Linked DNA regions of Homo sapiens: regions 2 and 3 are each reported to be linked to region 1. The links are microRNA targets in miRTarBase. Many come from high-throughput screens and were not tested one by one. Region 1 holds a microRNA gene; each other region holds the end of a gene's coding sequence.
Evidence for each region. Region 1 holds the annotated microRNA hsa-miR-99a-3p (CAAGCUCGCUUCUAUGGGUCUG, at 1,372-1,393, opposite strand). A microRNA usually pairs through its seed, bases 2 to 8, with sites in the 3' UTR of a target mRNA and lowers its output. Matches are read on the target gene's strand: a 7mer-m8 pairs with bases 2 to 8, a 7mer-A1 pairs with bases 2 to 7 and ends in A, and an 8mer does both.

Region 2: the mRNA of KIAA0319 is a reported target of hsa-miR-99a-3p. Seed matches in the 3' UTR shown: 7mer-A1 at 3,396-3,402.
Region 3: the mRNA of SLC46A3 is a reported target of hsa-miR-99a-3p. Seed matches in the 3' UTR shown: 7mer-A1 at 3,559-3,565.

The regions. Positions count from the first base shown.
Region 1 is chr21:16,535,456-16,540,530 of GRCh38, reverse strand. It overlaps MIR99A (microRNA 99a), which reads right to left and starts at 1,442; the gene lies at 1,362-1,442. All of the region lies in intron 6 of MIR99AHG (mir-99a-let-7c cluster host gene), which reads right to left. MIRLET7C (microRNA let-7c) reads right to left here and starts at 703; the gene lies at 620-703.
Region 2 is chr6:24,543,091-24,548,165 of GRCh38, forward strand. KIAA0319 reads right to left here. Exons shown (of 21, transcript NM_014809.4): 21 at 1,017-4,253. The coding sequence ends at 4,075. Among named protein-coding and RNA genes, the nearest start is that of ALDH5A1, 51 kb to the left of the region's middle. RefSeq lists an enhancer at 4,141-4,663.
Region 3 is chr13:28,697,365-28,702,439 of GRCh38, forward strand. SLC46A3 (solute carrier family 46 member 3) reads right to left here. Exons shown (of 6, transcript NM_181785.4): 6 at 2,716-4,217. The coding sequence ends at 4,133. All of the region lies in intron 1 of LOC124903143 (a long non-coding RNA gene), which reads left to right. Among named protein-coding and RNA genes, the nearest start is that of SLC46A3, 19 kb to the right of the region's middle.

The sequences.
Region 1 (5,075 bases):
CAAATATTCAATAGAAACTCATCACAGAGTGAGGTCTTACACTCCATTCACTAATCCAATAAATAGTTAGTGCTCATTATGAGTAAGGCATTGGAGGGGATACAGTGAAAAATAAAACATGGACTTTGCCCTCAAGGGGCTTACAGTCTAGTGCGGAAAAAATCAGCAAGCACATAAATAGCCATAACATAAGGTAGAAAGTGATGTGTCATAAGGAAAACGCAAATAATGTGCTATGGGAGCTATTAACTCTAGCAGACATTTTTTATTATAGTGTCTAAGCAGCCAATATAAATAGACCAATGATCCATTTGAAAATTAAGGTCTGAATTTTGTTAATCTATAGATGATAAAAAGCTTTAATATTAATGCAATTTAAGTCACTACCTACAATTTTCTTAAAATGTTTGAACATGGAGTGACAACCCATTAGAAATACCATTTTGACATTGTTCATAAGCAGATACAAATGGAATAATCTAATAGGGCTGAAATGATCATTTTAATGTAATAAAGGCCCAAATCAATGATCCAAGATACTCATGACACATTACCTTCTTGCACACAAATTGGCTCAATCAGGTTAAAGTGATGAAGAATTCCTCGACGGCTCAAGTGTGCTCCAAGGAAAGCTAGAAGGTTGTACAGTTAACTCCCAGGGTGTAACTCTAAACCATACAACCTACTACCTCAACCCGGATGCACACAGCTTCCAATGTTGCTTCAAACTCCTTATCATATCTTCAGTCAGCTCCTCCAAATATGGCAGCCATACACCTAAGGGCTTGGCAAGGATATAGATATAATATTCTAACATTTTACCAGTAAACTTTGCTGCTAACTGTTTCTCATAGGACTAACCTAAACACTTGGGTTTCCAGCATAGGTCACGTAAAATGTCTTCTGACCATCTAACCTGCCATAGTTCTAGTCGCAATTAATAGTAAAAGTCAATTGCATTCAGCCTCATTTTTTCAGGAGAAATAGGCTCAATAAAAACATATAAATCCAATGGTAGTCTTTAATTTTCTTACTGAAGTTGAAGAGGTACACTAAGCACTACAGTATGCACTGAAGTTTCTGAACAGAATCTATTCAGATCCTGGTCCAAACCCTGCTATAAAGGTTCAACTTTCTTATGCAATTTACTGTACATGGAATCGAACTTGAATGGGTGTGATATAAACGCTTCCAAGTTGTTGAGAATTGAAGCCTGCCTTGTAAGACAGACAATGATTAAAATAAACATTAAAAACAAAGGAAAATATAATGACTTCAAAAGTATATAATCAACTGGAGTTTAACAGGATTTTACTGAACTATTGTTGAACGGCACTGTGTATAGCATTTTGTCAGATTACCACACTGACACAGACCCATAGAAGCGAGCTTGTGCGGTCCACTTCACCACAAGATCGGATCTACGGGTTTATGCCAATGGGCAACATCTTGCATGGGCCCCCTATTAATATAGAATTTGTTGTAAATATCTGATGCAATTAAGAGTCAAAAATAATATTGATCCTTTAGTATAAATGTTTTAAATGCTGAGTTCTAAGGATGCATATTCTCCATTAAAGGCCTTCATAAATATTCAAAACTAAATACAAATTTATATGCATGAGAATTTAAAAAGTAGTTTATTGAAAAATTTTTCACGAACTGCTTTTGTTTCAATAGTAAATATTTTGGAATTAAACTATTCTAATTGAGTTTTAAAAGAAAAAAGAATCCATACATGCATGTATGAATTATATAATTGTGAGGCATGAATGTAGTATTACGAGCCTATAATTAAAACCAAATTAACTATTAAGTTAATTGTGTATGAGTTAGACCGTGCTTATTTTAATTTTTATAAAACTAGTTTAGTTACTGGTTTCAAGGAATTGGTAACATTATAACTTTCTCATAAAACAGTAAGATCTTGTTCACTAGCTAGAGAATACAGGAAGTTATTATCAGCCTTAAATATATACATCTGTGTCTATAGTCGGAATGGTGCTAAAATTTACAATATTTGGATGAGTTAATATAAAACTAAACTAAATGGCACGATAATGGCATGATTACTAATACTCCACACTAACATTTATACTCCAGATGTATTACATGACATAGGATATCTTCTTTCCTAAATAAAATATATTTAAACTTATTGTTCAAAAAAGATACACTTAAAATGCATGGCTACATACAACTCTCATCTGGTCAACAGGTTGGGCAAAAATAAAATATTACTAAAAAATGTTTTAAACCACCAGACAACAAGCAAACACACAAACGAGTAAACATAAAGCCAGCCACATACACGTTTTTTTAAGATTGTAAACTCAACTGCAACAAAATGATAAGTTGTACAATCATTAATCATTTCACATCTATAATCACTTAGCATTTCCTAATTATATCTTTATTGTGTAAAATAATACTACATACTAATTGCTTAGTGATTTTGCATATTTTGAAATAAATACGTTTTATAGCCTTTATATAGATCATGTGTTCTACATAATTTTAAACCATTATTTATTCTTAAATTGTCCTCATAATTATTAAAAACTATAGTAAATAATCAACAATCATACATTCAGTTGTAGTAAAAATATTTCAACATATATTTATAAATGCAAATGTGAAATAAGAGGCAGCATTGGGTTTAGTTTTACCATAACTATAAGAAAGCATGTTTTGGTTTCATTGTCTTATCAGGTCATGTAAAAAAGATGAAAAAGCATGACCTTATTCCCCTCCTCCTGATTTCACTTCCTTTTATATGGTACAACAAATAAGAAAATATAATTTTTTTCTTTTCCTATAAAGCTTTCTAGTAAACCGTATTGCACCTATCTTAAGCGTATGGATACACAGACATATATTCAATGGGACACAAACTGCCCAATTGACCACAAGAAATTTTTCACAAAGGTAGGTCATAGCACACATTTTCAAATGAAAACCATCAATAAAATTTCAACAGTTACACTCATAAAGAATATGAAATTAATTCTTATAACAAAACACAGTCAAAAGAATGTTGTTTTTCTTTAAAAACAGTAAATCTTATTTGCTCTTTGTTTTTTATTTTTACCTGAAATGGTTTTCTCCTATGATCACTTTCTTCACTTTTCATATCCATTTTAAGTTTTTCCCTAAAACAACCACAAAAGGAGAAATATCAGACAACTGCTGTCTAGGAGGAGCATCTGAGTGGATCGTGGGAATGAGGGTAGACGATCGAGAAGAAAACACGATATCAAAATGGGCAAAACCTTTTAAAGTATTTTTTTTTTAAAGCCTTGGAAGACTCACAGGGCCCCACCCAGGCTACTCATATGACATATAAAGTGGTTTCATAGTTTGCATTTATGCGTTCATTTTGGTTCGTGTTGTTTTCACAGTAACAGTTTTGAAAGTGAAAGGACGATGGCTGTTAAAGAAGCGACTAGGTTTTGCACAATGAAGTAGCGAAAGCTGAAAAGAGATTTGGATTTGGCATGGAGCTTAATAAGATAATTAAGAGTGTAGAGATTAATGGCTGCTAAAAATAACATTTAAAATAATGTTTTTAAACGGATCTTGAAACATGGAAACAGGTTTATCAATATTAATTAAGCCAGTGAAAGTTGGTGTACCATTAGCTGAGGCAGCATGGAGGTACAAGAGCTATTTTGTAAATAATTAGTGAACAATAACCAACAGAACGTTTTATTTGAATGTTATCAGTATATAGGGATTTTGCAATTTCCTGTAATTGTTCATAGAATAGCAAACACAAAGGCAGAATTAATCAGTTCTACATTTTTCATTGTTTACCCTACATATTTGTAATATAAGAAAATATGATTTTAAAAGCATAACAGATTACCAAAGTATATTTTTACCGAAATATTATAACGTCAATTCTTAGTATGCAAATTATAGTTTTCATTGATACTTGCTGAATTTTTCAAAAGCATTCTCTTTTAAAAATTATTTTTACACTTGTTTAGAAACATTTTTTATCAAAACTAAAATAGCTGGAATGCATCTGCTAATCCTTTCACACTGAACCAGGCAAAACTGTTTTTTTAATAAAATGCTTAAATTGCTTAGCAATTTACTTCTACAAACAGACAAAATAATTATAATGCAATGCAGTTATCTGCTGAGCCAATACATTGCTCTGAACTTAAAACAAGTTTGCATGTACTTTTTCTAATACACTTGATATTTCCAATGCTTTTTGCAACTGCTCTAGGACAAGTACTTCTTTTAAAATGTATTTTAAAAGAGCATATTATTATGAAAGAAGCTTCTTTTCTACCTAGCAACTGAGAACATGCTCTTCTCATTCCTATTTTTGTTCTACTGAAATCTTTGTAAATAATTTGAATATAACTTCCCCAAAAGCAATCTTATTTATCAGTCATTCAACGCATATTCTAATATAACCCTTTTCTACAAGTTTAAAAAGTTTCTTCTTTCACATTTCAAATTATAAGTCACATGAAAGATTTACTTTTTTTACCCACTAGGTCTAAACATTCACTTTTCTTAGATAGCAAAAACTAATACTGGACACAAAAAGCACAGATATATTAATATCTTTCCAAAACTTCTGTGTATACCCCACATAAAAACATGTATTGTCTTTTTCATAGAGATTTTTCTATCTTTCCTTAAGTTTCTATTTTAATCAAGATTAGAGCAAGAGAGGAAAAGGAAAAAGTTAATAAGAGTAAAGTGGGCAATGAGTTAAATAAAAGTAAATTAAAAGTTCAAGGATTCCCTTTTATATAACAGTAGCCTTTAAAAGAAAAACAACAAAAAAAGTTATACCTGATATGAAAGGTGCGATTTCACCAAGTGCAATATATTGCTAATTATGCCATATGGTTTGAAATAATAAAAATAAAGAAGGCTCATTTGGTTATGTTGCCTTAAAAAGCTGATTTACAAAGCCCGATGTCTCTGTAGTTATACAGCCAATGTTTGCTTTTTTTGGTTTGTTTTGGTTTGGATTTTTGTTTGTTTGCTTTTGTTTTTGTTTTTGAGCAGGAGCGTCTCTTTTTTTTTTTTTTTTTTTTTTTTTT
Region 2 (5,075 bases), not on the chromosome of region 1:
CGGCAATAAAGTCTCTTTCCTTCAAATTCCTTTTCAGAGAACTTCTGTTCACAGTTGCTAATGGAGTGAGTTAAAACAGCCTGGAAAGGAAGGAACTACTACCTGTTTGAGGGGAAAGCTCCATACAGTACTACCATATATGAAACTCCAGAAAATTCAAGCTAATCTCTAGTGATTGCCAGGGGAGAGGGGGATTACAAAGAGCCACGAGGAAACTTTTATGGGTAATTATGTTTGTTCAACAGCTTGATTGTGGTCATGGTTTCACAGATGTGCACACATATCAAAGCATCAAATTGTATTATGTGCAGTTTACTGTAAGTGAATTATACCTCAATCTGCATTTTTTTTTCTTTTTTTCTGAGATGGCCTCCTTCTGTGGCCTAGGCTGGAGTGGCCCAGTCTCTGCTCACTGCAACCTCCACCCCCAGGGCAGAAGCAATCCTCCCACCTCAGCCTCCTGAGTAGCTGGGACTACAGGCATGCATCACAATGACCAGCTAAATTTTTGTGTGTGTGTTTTTTGAGACAGGATTTGGCCATGTTGCCTAGGCTGGTCTCGAACTCCTGGACTCAAGTGATCCACCTGCCTTGGCCTTCCAAAGTGCTGGGATTACAGGCATGAGCTACCATGCCCGGCCCTCATTTTAAAAATGGCTTTATTACTGATAAGAGCTAGATTAGAGGATGCAGTGTAAGTATACTCTCTCCAGAATCTAATCACCCTACCATGCTGTGGGCCTTCTGGCACGAGGGACAGACTGCCTGTTAATTGCAGAGAACCACCCACACAGAGGAAGGCGAGCTGACTGAGCATGCTCAGTTCTTCCGGAACACTTGTCTTCCCACAGGGAAGGAGCAGGGGATGTTAGTCCAGCCTTCTGCAAATTTTTTTCTTTCTGTAAAAGGCCAGATAGTAAATAGTTTAGGCTTTGCAGACAGTCCCTGTCAAAACTCCTCAACTTTGTTGTAACATAAGAACAGCCATAGATAATACATAAATCAGTGAATGTGGATATGTTCCAATAAAACTTTATTTATGAACACAAATCTGAATGTCATATAGTTCACATGTTTCAAATTTTTTTATTTATTTTTAACCATTTGAAAACATAAGACCCACTTTTCGGCTCATGGGGCGTGCACACACAGGCTGTAGGCCACAGTTTGCTGACCTATACTCAAGGGAAATCCCTCTACCCTGAAGCATAAAGAAAACAAATTTCCCCCTAAAAATAAGCATTACAGAAAATACAGACACCTTTATTTAGATTAGTGCATATATTTAATAGTGTGATATTAGAAATACCTTGTCAACACATAGGGAAAAATAATATATTTTAAGCAATAAAACCAAGATTAAAATAGTCCATGATAGCTTTGTCACACAAAAAACAATGGTAGTCACTCTCCTCCCCGCGCACAAAAGGTGGCATCACTGGCTTGTTGAGTGGTACATTTTCTTACCTTGCTGCATGTTTTTCAGATAGTTCCTTAGTCATACACATGCTTAGCCTTGTAATGCCATGGGTATGAATCCTCCTTCATTGAATGTAAACCAGCAACTAAAGTGCTTGTTAGCCTGTGAGCCCTACAAACACCCACTCCCATATTCTAGGGCCTGTTTTTCTCTGTCCAGAGCTCTTAGCGTGCTTTATCTCCCAAAGATCCTCAATGATAAGCAGTCCACCATGAAGAATGCTGGTTGGTCATTCCATCTCGTGCTTTGTTCTGATGAGAAATGGGGTGACAAGACAGGACTCACTTTCTGATCACTACTGTGATGTTTGATTTCCCAGAGATTCAAGATCCTTCTGTGATGGAAGGATCAGAGAGGCCAGGCTGAGATGGCCAAGGACAGAAAAGGAGGAGGGGCAGAAGAAGTCCACTGTAAACCTAGAGGGAGGGGTGGCCCGGGTGTGATCCACAGGAGACTATGCAGGCCATCTCTCCCTCTGACCTTGGCTCTCTGGATCCATTAAAAGAAATTCCTCTTAGTCCTGGGAATAGAACTTTCAGGTGGCCCAAAAGTTCCACCAGAATTTGCCCTCCATCCATCAAGGCAGGAGTTCTTTGTTTAGTGGAAAGCAGAACTCTACAGTTTAAAAAATTTGCATTCAGTTCTTGGAGCCACTACTTCTTGGCCATGACCTCTGGGAAGTTATTTAACCTCTCTGGGCCTTCAGAGGGCTATCTGCAACATAAGAATGATAGTATCTCCTCTTCAAGGTTGATTATAAGGATCAAATGAGTATGTAAACTGCATATGTTATGTACATAAAGCGGTAAATGTTCACTCCCTTCTTCCTCATTACGCCCGATGACTTTACATTTGGGCTGCTGTCCCCTATGCCAGAAATTCACATTTGCATGCAAACAACCATAACCCTGGTCACCTGATAAGGCAGATTCTAGGCTTATGAAGCTCAATACTGGTTAAAAAAAAAAATCACATTTTCCTTCTAACACTATAGACAGTATTGAATTGGCTAGTTATACAGAAAGTGTAGGCATAAGCAAAGCAATTATTTTAAAAATAAAATGACACACTTTTTAGTTCTGCCTTTCCCCAGTAAATTACAATAAGTAAAAATAAGATGGTCCCATGAGGATGAATACTGCGGGAGATGACAAAAGCACCTAAAAGCTGAATTTTTTTTAAGAACCCATGGGGAAACATTTTCTCTGGCACTCCTGCCCTGGTGTTTAAATACCTTGCTTCTTCATCAGCAATGCATTCCTAGTTTTCCCATGTGTTAAAAAAGCATTGTGCAACAGGATATTGTTTAGGTGTGCTCACACTTGGTACCACAACACTGGTTCTATCTCTCATTCTAATCTTCCCACAAAAAATGCCAAGGGCACCACCAAGGCCACCAGCCTCAGGACCAAGGGTGGATGGGGAACTACCCTGAACCAGTCAACGTAGCAGGCTACAATTAACTCCAGTTAATTGCTCGGGAGTACTGCTTTGTGGGTGGGAATGTTTTAATTGTCTTTCATGTTTGAAATAAGATTTATTCGGTAGAAAAACTTAAATGTATTTTTAAACATATGAAGTGAATACATCTATGTCAAGTTATTTTGGAAAGTACCTGTCGGGGACCAGAGTATCATAACCACGCCATCCAAGTTAAGACTGACTGTATTTCAGAGTTTTGGAATATATACACAATTGCTGAGTCGTTATCCCTATCTATGGCAGTCCAAACGCACAGCCTACAGAACATAATAAATGCTTAATGAATTAATCACTTCTATTGCATTTAATGTAAACTGGGGATCCGTTTACATTAGAGAACTATACTGCTAAACAACACCGAGAGGAGTCAGTGTAGTTTTTCTTAGAGAAAGAAAAGATAATGTTACAATGCTACCTTCAACCTGCACGGCATTAAGCTCCTCCTCCCCTTTCTATTGCCTCAGTCCTTAGAATACGATTCTTCCTTAGCTCTTGAATGGCCAACAGCTGCTTTCTTGAGAGAGATGAAAACTGCCATTGACATAGCACAGAATTAAAAACCAGGAGGGCTTGGCACTGTGCGAGTGTTGCCGTCAGCACAGAAAGCTTGCTACATGCAAGACTCCGTACCTCCACAGATGGCCCGTGCCTCTTAGACAAGCTATTTTAACATACACAGCCATCTGACTGCAGGTCCTACAAGAGAAACCGTGTTTAGAATGCTGTTCCTTAGAGGCAATCACAGCAGCTAAGACAGAAATCATCCCTTTTTAAAACCTTGTTTCATTCACCTTCTCTAAGGTTCTACAGATAGAAATCGTTGTTCATCTTTAATATGAGATTGTGCCAGCTACAAAAACTCAAAACTCTTTTAAGTATATACCTTAGAGTTTTACCCAGCCTTTATTTCTATTAACAAGCATCTCAGTTAAAAGAGCAAAGTTTTTGTTTTGTGCCTTCAAAAACCGGTCTTTTAGTACGTGGGGATACACATCTAACCCACTGGGGAAGAAGGTCAATGAACTATTCTAAAAGAGTGGGTTTTGTGCTGTAACTCCCACTGACTGGTCTTGGATTCAAGGGGTCCTTCCACTTTACAATGAACTGCGCCATTATCTGTCCTTTGAGCAATAACTGAAGGAAGCTCCATTTCTGATGGAACCATTCATGGAAACCTTTGGATTCCCTCTCTCCATCTTTTCTCGGCTGAAGATTGTGTCCTGGTCACTGTCAAACTCAGACTCGGATACCATCAGGCTGGAGTTGTGCTCTGTGCTTCGGTGCTTGATACCTAGAGAGAAGCACAGAAGCATCTGAGGAGGAACGCCGTGATTCACTTCCAGCTGTCAGTCGTTGTGGTTGCAGGTCCTGTGATGGGCACGGAGTGGTGCTCTCCGCCCCTTGAAAGCAATCACTCAAAACAGCAGGCGGTTTGGGTTTCCTAGCAAGTAACTGCAGGGGCTTTGATGCCTCACCCGAGCTTCTGTCCCAGCTTTGACACTCGCCAGATGCTTGAGCCTGGGCAAGATACCGAACCTCTCTGAGCTTTCAGTCTCCTCCTCTATTCAACTGGAAGATAACAAAGCATCTACCCCATGAGTTTATGCTGAGGATTAAGTGAAATAGTGCATGTAAAGCTCTCTTGGCCCAGCCTTTAGTACATTGTAAGCATCCAACAAACGAAAGCTTCTGTGATTTTACCATTTGGTTAAAATATTTTTGGTAGAATATTTGATTTCAGGGGGTCAACCTAAGATACAGAACAGGTATAAGATTCAATTCCTACTCTCAAAGGATTTATGGTGTCTAGCTAGGGGTTTAAGACATAGACTTGGCTGGGCATGGTGGCTCACGCCTATAATCCCAGCCCTTTGGGAGGCTGAGGTGGGAGGATCACTTGAGGCCAGGAGTTCGAGGGTACAGTGAACTATGATCGTGTTGCTATGCTCTAGCCCAGGTGACAGAGCAAGACCCTGTCTCGGGAAAAAAAACAAAAACAAGACATAAAAGGCATAGACTCATGAGAAGATGGCTCATAACAGGTTAGATGTTTTTTAAATTGTATATGAATTAGGAGATAAGCACATATACTTATGGCAGGGGTTGCTTCAGT
Region 3 (5,075 bases), not on the chromosome of region 1:
CATGAGGGATATAAATTCATCATTTACTCTTCTTGTAACTTCTTTGGTTTCACATGAAGGTAATGCTGACCTCATAAAATGAGTTGGGAAGTGTTCCTTGCTTCTATTTTCTAGAAAAGCTGTAGGTAGTACTAATATGTTTATTCCTTAAATGTTTAGCAATGAAACCATTTGCGCCAGGTCCCATCTTGATCACACACAGCTGTGTCCATTTATTTATGTATGGTCTTTGGTTACTTTGTGCTACAATGGCAAAGTTAAGTAATGTGACAGACTGTATAATCCAGAAAGCCTAAACTGTTTACTCTCAGGCCCTTTACAGAAAATGGTTTCTAACCCCTGACCTAGAGTAGTGATTCTCAACTCTAGCCACATATTGGAATCACCTGGAGAATGTTTGAAAAAAAATACTGTCTGGCTCTCATACCTAGAAATTCTAATTTAATGTGTTTGAGCTGAGGCTAGGCCATTGGAAGTTTCAAAAGCTCCCCAAGTGATTTGACTTGGCAGGTTGAGAACTACTGGATGAGAATAAGAGTTGGTGTTATGTATTCATTTTACTTCCCACCCCAAAGCTGATTATTCTAATGTGCATTTAGGGTTGAAAATCAGTCATCTAGGGCAGTAGTTTCCAGGTCTGGATGTGTATCAGTCACCTGGGGAGGTTTTAGAAATACATTCCAAGACCTCACTGCAGAGCTACTGAAGCAGAATCTCTAGTACATGAGGCCAAGGATTTTTATTTTTACTAATTAATTATTTTATTTTTATTTTTAAATTCTTCAGATGGTTCTCATATGCAGGGATTTCTTTAAAAGAATACTGAACCCAGGCCATGCTATTCTATTGTCAAGATTCTTGGGCATTGAATGAGTAATTAGAAGATTATGAGAGGTGAAGCCAGCTGGACTTTCTGGGTCGGGTGGGGACTTGGAGAACTTTTCGGTCTTACAAGAGTATTGTAAAATGCACCAATCGGTGCTCTGTGAAAACGCACCATCTGTGCTCTGCAGCTAGCTAGAGGTTTGTAAAATGGACCAATCAGCACTCTGTAAAATGGACCAATCAGCAGGACATGGGCAGGGACAAATAAGGGAATAAAAGCTGGCCACCCCCAAGCCAGCAGCCACAACCCCCTCAGGTCACTCTCCACGCTGTGGGAGCTTTATTCTTTCGCTCTTCACAATAAATCTTGCTGCTGCTCACTCCTTGGGTCCATGCCATCTTTAAGAGCTGTAACACAGTGAAGGTCCGTGGCCTCATTCTTGAAGGCAGTGAGACCACCAACCCACCAGAAGGAACCAACTCTGGACACAATTATCTAGTGAGTATGGAAGTGGAGAAAAGGGATTTAGATGTATGAGGCCGTGCAATGCAGGCTGTGGACAATCCCATTGACTAGTCCTCTGTAATGATGAGAATCTTCATTTCTAGTAGATATGGTAATCTAACCCCCTTTGTACACTGCTGGATAACATGGAACATGTTTTTTCCTCTCTGGTTTCTCTTTATCTGGGCTCCATAAAGACCAGTCCTTCCATTAACATTCTTTCTTCAGATAATCGGGTTACATGATGGGAAATTAGATTTTTTTTTTTTTCATTTCTGTTTTGAGTCTATAGTTCCCCATCCCATCAGCTTGCATGGTTCTCTAGTCTCTTCAGCACCACATTTACTAATTGTCTCTTAGGCTAGACACTTTGGAGATGGCTAAGTTCATTTGTGCTACATTTTTGCCCTTGGCCACCTCAATCTAATCTCCTGATATACTTGCTACATCTCAAATAGAGTTTTTGCTCAAGTAATCATCTGTTAACCCTTCAACTGTATTACACAGTACCTCTTCAGTTCAGATGAGATGTGTAAAATCATGGAATGTTGAGCTGGAAGAGAGTTTATAGACCATCTTGTCTAAGCTCAAAAAAGATAATAATTATAGGCAGTTAGTTGGGTACAGTTTTTTGTTAATTTGTTTTTGATGAGTACATCATGCTACCCCTGTACAATTCTTGCTTTGGGGTTTATAATCTATTACTGCAAACCCTAGCTATGAAGTAGCTGGACTTCATTCAGTAGGGTGAAGTCCATTCATGTGTCATACTGATAGGCACTGAATAACCACGGTCCAGCCAAATCTCTGTGAGACTTATCTTCCTCTTCTGTAAAATGAGGAGAATGAATATCTACTTTATAAACTGTAAGATGCTTTTTGTTTTGGTTTGGGAAGAACCTTGGACAGGAAGGAAAACAAAAATGTATCAGTCAATCTGAGAATTAGTTATTACACGGGCTCCAAGCCCAGAAGATACTAGCTAAACCTAAAAGGAATGATCTTGGAAATAAGGATTTCTAGTATATTAAATTATGAGTGCTATTCACTAGTCAAGCAATCATTGATTTTCTTAAAGCCCTAAGCAATACTATAAAACAGAAGATTGTATCTACTTTCAAGAGATTACAATGAAGTTACTCATTTAGTTGCACGTTAGGGCATTTGTGTTATTATTTATGGTAACTTCGAAAATGGGAGGTATTAAAGGACCTATGAAAATACTGTAAATCAGTTTTAAAAGTGTATAAACTGGCATATTTTTCAATTTGTTTGCAAGGCTGGCTTAATGATTGGCATGATAACAGTGGTTACTCTCATAAGGCATTAAATATATAGCTCTAAATGATTTTTACAAGTAAAAATAAAATTTTGTAGTCATTTAGTTTAGTTCAACAAATATTTATTGAGGATATAATGAGTAATCAAAGGTTGTCCCAGTACTCAAGGCGATGATTGTCAGGTAGCAGAAACAATTACAAGTCGATGGAAAATGCTGGGATCGAAGTGCACACAAAGAGCTATGGAAGCCCTGTAGGGACTGGGGAGTGAGGAGGGATGTCAAGAAGGCTGCTATCCAGAAGAAGCAATGTTTCGACTGAGGCTTGAAAGTTTCAATGTAATGTGGGAGGAAGAGCAAATGGAACAGTGTGTGAAAAGACATGGAGGCATGAGAACACATGGTGTTTTTAGAGACCAAGGTGGACCTCAGGATGAGCGTAAGGCAGTAAGAAATGAGATGGGAAGGAGTCAAATCATGACTGGCTTGCTTGTTTGATCATTTTCCTATGAGTGACCGTGTTGACGGATTCAAATTTAAGGAGTACAAGATCGTATTTTAAAAATGCCCTTAGCAGTATTTATAATTGAACAAGGATAGACAACAGCTGGGTAAGAAAGACTAGAGGCAGAATTCTCAGCCAGGGATCATGGAATGTGAATATCCTTTTGCTGACACAAGGAACAAATGTTGGCTCCAAACATTAGTTACTTTATACCAGTATTAGCTGTTCATTCAGTTTTTTAACTTCTTTAGAGCAATTTTATTTATCATCTATTTTTTCCCAATTACCCATTACATATAGAAATATTATCATGCCTGTCACCGATGAAACATATTAAGAAAAGTGAAAAATACATATTCTTTAAAGTGCCTCCCTTTTAAGGATTTTGTATCAACAAAGCACTGATTGTGGAATTCATGTATAGTCTTCAGAAGTCACAGTATATAAGCTCCGACTATCAATAGCAGCTTAACAGGCTCTATAAAATAAAGCATTACCAAGTATAGGTAAAATCATACATATTTGAAACTTATATCATTATTTTCCTACCAATGAGTGATTCATCATAATTTTCATTATGCCTTCAAAATTATCCCTGAGAGAGGCCAGAAACCCATTCTGCTGATGAAGAAACTGAGGTAAAGATTTCTCTTTGGTCTCAGTGTAAGAGCCTGGAATATGTCAGAGAGATTATTGCTTTTGACCTTATCAAGTTTCTTGATCCCTCCTTACACCCTTAAGTTTTAATGTTTCTCTTCTAAGTCTAAAAGTGAGGCGTATTTGAAATTTGTTCTGTGTATTGCAAGTATATTGCATGATACGCACAAAGTGCTCAAAGTGCGTGGTACCACAAGAAGCTAAAGCCAGGAGCTGTCTCTCTGACTGTTCAGTTTAGAAGAAAAGATAGGTAAAATTGGTTCTCAGTGAAGCACTGATTGTGGAATTCATTTATAGTCTTCAGAAGTCATGGTATATGATATGTGCATTCATAGATTTTTTTTGTTTGTTTAAATCACAGTCACCTGTCTGAAGCATCTTCACTGGATTCTTCTTGTATAAGAAGTTCATAGCTTCCCTCATTCCAGCTGGTACACTTGACAACACTATAAAAGGAAACAAGACATTTTAAAGTTGAGATTAAGACAATACATAAATAAGTAATCTGTTTTCCAACTTTTTTTCCCAGTTACATAGCTTTTAATAAATTATGCAGATTATTAGGAGGAGTATCCTGGCATTTTGAATCCAGCTGACTCATGCATGGTGTTCTTAAAATAATTTTAAAACTGCATGATTTTTTTTCTCTTCTAGACCCCTAAGGTATCCCATCTGTCCCATGGTTAACTCTGTGTAGTCCACATAAACTAGTTATAACTAAAGCTATTACTGAAGTTCCTGTTCAATAGCTATAGCTGAAGCTCAGAAGCTTGGACATTTGGAGGTAAGACAGTATGTAATTTTGATTTTTAAAATATTGAGCAGTGTAAGGTTAAAAAAAAAGCTCAGAAGCCCATCTACTTTACCTTATTATTAAAAGGACAACTGCCTTTTATCTATCTGTTATAACAGAATTTATAAACATGTGAAGACTAAAATTAGAATTACCTATTATTCTACTCACCATGTATGCAATTCTTTTCTTTAAGTGTTATTTTCCTACTGTTTAAAAAAATCTGTTTTTTTTTGGTAAAGATGGGGGTCCCACTATGTTGCCCAGATTGGTCTTGAACTCCTGGCCTCAAGCAGTCCTCCTGCCTCAACCTCCCAAAGTGCTGGGATTATAGGTGTGAGCCACGGTGCCTGCTACAATTCTTGTTAGTTAAGTCATTTTTCATGAAATGGCTGTACCATCATTTACTTAAACATTCTCCCACTGTTGGACAGTTTGGTCACTTAAAATTTTTTTGCTGTAATTAACGTTTTTATATATCAATTTTTGACAAAATTACTCATTATTTGTT